Regions from separate parts of the Homo sapiens genome. Here region 1 is linked to region 2. The links come from fine-mapping of genetic effects on gene expression. Tissue or cell type: thyroid. Region 2 holds a variant in brackets; the other region holds the start of a gene. All regions are shown on one strand. Distances are from middle to middle.

Region 1 (2,746 bases), 44 kb before region 2:
GCACACAGAAGCTCAATAATATTTGTTGACTGAATGCAGTTCCTATTATTCATGTATGTTACACATTTCCATAAATTGCTTTCACATAGCACTTTACACCGGCACAGCGCGTCCAGGCTTCCAAAACACCTTCACGTGAATCCCTGCATCTAGAATGGTGGTTAAGAGTTAGACATGCCTGCACAGCCATTAAATGGCACAGCACACGGGGGACCCGTGTCTGATGCTCCCACAGCACATTAATTGCCCCTCTATTTCAGCCCTTCTGGTACACTGTAATTCTCTCTCTCACTTGATCAGCTCTTTGAGGAGGTCCCGTTCCTCTTCGTATCCCCAGGCCACACACAACCCAGACCACAGAGGTGCACCGTAGACATCAAGATTCTTCCACCTGCTGCAAGCCTGATGCTTTACCGGCGGGGCCTCTGCAGGGGAGCCTGATTTATACTCATCCCAGCTCCCACCCAGCCCCACGCCCGCCACGTGTGATTTCCACAGCCGCACCAAGGAAGACTGTCCAGCACACAGACTTTTCGTCTCCCAGCAAAATTATCCCCGGCACAACGCTTCCCCCTCAAGTCTGCCCAATGGCTTTCCCATTTCCACCGCAGCCCAGGTTGGGGGGCAGTGGCTGAGCCTGGGCCCCCTCCCAGCCCCGCTGCGGCAACCTAGGGGGGTGTCCGGGCGGGGCCTGTCAGCAGCGACCCGCCCCCGGGCACACGCGCGTCAGGGGCAGCACCGCCAAGCTGCCTGTGCAGCCCCATCCAGCAGGAGTCCCGCGGCTGCCGGCCGCCCGACGCCCCCCCCTCCCCAGCACCCCACACAGCTCGCGACTCAGGTAGGCGAGGGCGCTCCTTACGCACCCGAGAAGGCAGCGGTCGCAGACGACGCCACGACTCCCCTTGCACACCGTGTACGCCAAGGGATCCGAGCGGAAGAGTAGCTCTCCGGGGCGCAGCGGGGTCACGGCGCGCAGCCCGTTTCCCCTCTTGGCGGTTGCGAACTTTTCCACCTTCAGCGGCTCCATCCTCCCGCAGCTCCGGCACCTCAGACGGCTACCCGCGTCCAGCAGCGGGCGTCTCACGGGCTGCCGGGACCCGCGCGCCTGCGCCCTGCGCGCACACGTACGCCCGAGGGGCGGGGCGGGCGCGGTGGGGCAAGAGCATGCGCAGATGGAGTCTGGAGGGACGGCTGGAGTGGAGTGTGTGGGACCTGAAGGTGGTCGTAAGGCTCCGCGTGCGGCTCGTGCCCATGGCGACTGCGCAGAAGACAGGCGGGGTTTTTTTTCTCCCTCTAACATTGTATTACGATCATTTTAACGCATACGGAACAGTTGAAAACAGTGCAGTGAACACCTATATACCTCCGCCTAAATCAGACAACCTAGCACTTTGCCATTTCTGCTCGTCACTCTCTCCCCACCTGTAGCTATGTATACACGTATTGTCGTTAAACTATTTCAAAGTTGCAGGCATCATGACATCACAACTAGTACTTTGCACTGTAACTTTTTTTTGTTTTAGGACGGAGTCTTGCTCTGTCGCCCAGGCTGGAGTGCAGTGGCGAGATCTCGGCTCACTGCAACCTCTGACCTCCGGGTTCAAGCGATTCTCCTGCCTCAGCCTCCATAGTAGCTGGGACTACAGGCATGTGCAATCCTCCCGCCTGGGCCTCCTGACTAGATGGGACTATAGGCTCACGCCACCATGCCTGGCTAATGCTTTTTACTTTCCTCCAGAGACAGTCTACCTATGTCGCCCAGGCTAGTCGCAAACTCCTGGCCTCAAGTGAACCTGAACCTCCTGCCTCGACCTCTCGAATTGCTGGAATTACAGGTGTGAGCCACCACACCCAGCTTAATTTTCTTTTTTGTTTTTGGGGTTTGTTTTGTTTTGTTTTGTTTTTTGAGACGGAGTCTCATTCTCGCCCAGGCTGGAATGCAGTGGTACGATATTGGCTCACTGCAACCTCTGCCTCCCGGGTTCAAGCGATTCTCCTGCCTCAGCCTCTTGAGTAGCTGGGACTACAGGCGCCTGCCACCACGCCCGGCTAATTTTTGTATTTTTAGTAGAGACGAGGTTTCACCGTGTTAGCCAGGATGGTCTCGATCTAACCTTGTGATCCGCCCGCCTCGGCCTCTCAAAGTGCTGGGATTACAGGCGTGAGCCACCGCGCCCAGCCCACCCGGCCTAAATTTCTTAGTTTGGACAAACGTGCCATGGTAATGCAAAATGTCATTATTAAGGGCAGCTGGATGGAAGGTGTAGGAGTACACTATAGTGCCTTTCAATTTTTCTGTGTATCTAAAGTCATTTCAAAAGTAAACATTTATTTTAAAACATGAAGGTGGTTATGCTTCCATGAGTGTAAAGTACAAAAGGCAGGCTCGTGGTGCTGTCAGAAGTCAGAACACTGGTTTCAGGGCTGGGGGTGTTGGGAGGGGCTGGGCATGGTTGGCTTTGTGATCTGGGGGCTGGTGTGTTCCATCTGTGAATATCTTTTAAGCTGTGCACTTACCAGGGATGTAAGTCATATCTTAATAAATTTTCATAAGTTTGACAAAAAATAAAATGAGGATGGGAAGCTTGTTTGGGTTGTGGGGCCTCGGGTGCTTATCCAGCCATGAGCTGTGTCCCAGATGCTTCTAGAAGCCTGGAGGGAGCTGAGAACATTCCAAGTCGAGGTGGCAGAGCCAAGGCCCTGAGGTGGGAGCGCAATGCTGCACATCCCCAGCTGTGAATGGGGT
Region 2 (2,500 bases):
GAGATAACATTCCTGAGCTTAAAAAAAAAATACAGCAAGGTGCAGACTGAAGACCTCAGCATATTCTCAGGCGGAAGCAGTGACGAGAACACGTGAAGATCCACATTGTAAATATTTAAAAATTAGAGCCAGGGCCAGGCGCAGTGGCTCACGCCTGTAATCCCAGCACTTTAAGAGGCTGAGGCGGGTAGATCACCTGAGGTCAGGAGCTCAAGGCCAGCCTGGCCAATGTGGTGAAACCTGTCTCTACCGAAAATACAAAAATTAGCAAGGTGTGGCGGTGCACGCCTGTAGTCCCAGCTACTCGGGAGGCCGAGGCAGGGGAATTGCTTGAATACAGGATGTAGAGGTTGCAGTGAGCCGAGATCGAACCACTGCTCCCCAGCCTGGGTGACTTGAGTGAGACTCCATCTCAAAAAATAAAAAAATAAAAAATAGAGCCAGGTGCAGTGGGTCATGCCTGTAATCCCAGTGATCTGGGAGGCTAAGGCAGAAGGATCACTTGAGGCCAGGAGTTCAAGACCAGGCTGGGCAATATTCTTAAACATTTTAAAACTTAGCCAGGCATGGTGGCGCCTGGCTGTAGTCCCAGCTACTCCAGAGGCTAAGGTGAGAGGATCACTTGAGTCCAGTAGTTCAAGGCTGCAGCAAGCTATGATTGTGCCACTGCACTCCAGCCTGGGCAACATAATGAGACCCTGTCGCTAAAGAAAAACGTTTTTAAACAGAAGGATTTTACTCACCATGTGCAGAACCTTAATCTCACAAGCTAATTGCCAGATAACACTTAATACATGATACAAGTCTGGATTTCCGGGATCTGCCATTAGTTTCTAGTAAAAGGAAAATAAAAATTACATGTTATACACATCTATAATCAATTAAAAACAAATGCTGACTCTTAATAGGACTATCTTAATGGCATCTAGACATTTAAGAAAAGAAAACTAGAATTAGATGCAAAAAGCCGGGTGCAGCGGTGCACGCCTGTAGTCCCAGCTACTCGAAAGGCTGAGGCAAGGGGACTGCTTGAGCCCAGGCATTTGGGCGTTCCGTGTGAGATGATCGTGCCTGTGAATAGCCACAGCACTCCGGCAGGGGCAACG[G/C]CAGGGCACGCGGGGTCACGCTTGTAATTCCAGCACTTTGGGAGGCCAAGGTGGGAGGATGCTTGAGCCTAGAAGTTCAAGACCAGCCTGGGCAACATAGTGAGACCGCATCTCTTAAAAAACAACAACACACAAGTGTTAAGGCTGACTTGAAAGGACGAGGTTACCTCAACGAATGGGAAGGCACTCCGCAGACAAGAAACCACATGTGAAAAGGTCCACGGCAAAAGAGGCATGGGCCAGTGGAATATAACCCTAGCAGCAGGAATCTAACACAGCACTTCCTATTCTTCTCCTTGTCTTTCCTTTGTTGAATAGCGTATGCACAGCCCCAAGGTCCTGAGGCCCTCGCTGTCTTTCCATGGCTAGCAAATATGTATTTACTAAATGGGTCTGGGGGAGCAAATCATCCCTTCATTTTTTGCCCCACTATCCTAATCCATAGCAATACAAATAAGCATTATAAAAATCTTAATCTTCTTTGAGTCTTAATAGTACTATCTTAATAGCATCTAGAAATTTAAGCAGAGAAAACTAGAATTAGATACAAAAAGCTGGGTGCAGTGGTGTGCACATGTAGTCCCAGCTACTCGAAAGGCTGAGGCAAGGGGACTGCTTGAGTCTAGGAGTTTGGGGGTTCAGTGTGAGATGACCGTGCCTGTGAAAAGCCATAGCACTCCAGCATGGGCAACACAGCAAGACAAACAAGCATTTCCCGTCAAACTGGATTAACAGATCAATAACATGAAACATTCTGGGCAGAAAAGAAAGATGACACTCATAGCGAGATCAAGGTTGTCAGGAAGACCTTCCATTACAGAGAATTGAACTAGAGTCTCAAATCTTAGGCTCGGTGTAATGGCTCACAACTGTAATCCTAGCACTTTGGGAGGCCGAGGCAGGAGAATCACTTGAAGACAGGAGTTCAAGACCACCCTGAACAACACAGCATGACCCTGTCACTACAAAAATAAACTACCTGGGTGTGGTGGTGTGCACAGGTGGTCCCAGCTACAGGGAGGCTGAGGCAGGAGTGTCACTTGAGCCCAGGAGTTTGAGGCTGCAGTGAGCTATGAACATACCACGACATTCAAGCCTGGGCAACAGAGCAAGACCCTGTCTCTAAAAAAATTTCTTTTAATGTTTTAAAGTTAAAAAAAATAATTATAATACCCCTTAAATATTAAAAAAAAATCCTGTTAAAACTAATAAATTCAGCTGAGTATGGTAGCTCACACTTGTAATCCCAGCATTTTGGGAGGCCGAGGGAGGAGGATCACTTAAGCCCAGGTGTTTGAGACCAGCCTGGGCAACAAAGTGAGACACTGTCTCTATTTAAAAACAAAGGGAGGGAAAAAAAACCTGGCTGGGCGCTGTGGCTCATACCTGTAATC

Evidence for each region. PIP is the estimated chance that this variant, and not a neighbour inherited with it, causes the effect.
Region 1: it holds the start of SMYD3, and the variant in region 2 is fine-mapped to the expression of SMYD3 in thyroid (GTEx, PIP above 0.99).

Annotation. Positions count from the first base shown.
Region 1 is chr1:246,506,191-246,508,936 of GRCh38, forward strand. It overlaps SMYD3 (SET and MYND domain containing 3), which reads right to left and starts at 1,089. Exons shown (of 12, transcript NM_001167740.2): 1 at 864-1,089. The coding sequence starts at 1,027. RefSeq lists enhancers at 40-540, 541-1,041 and silencers at 727-776, 1,047-1,226, 1,716-1,948.
Region 2 is chr1:246,550,470-246,552,969 of GRCh38, forward strand. TFB2M (transcription factor B2, mitochondrial) reads right to left here. Exons shown (of 8, transcript NM_022366.3): 5 at 744-833. Among named protein-coding and RNA genes, the nearest start is that of TFB2M, 15 kb to the right of the region's middle. The variant G/C (reference allele first, on the strand shown) is at 1,107.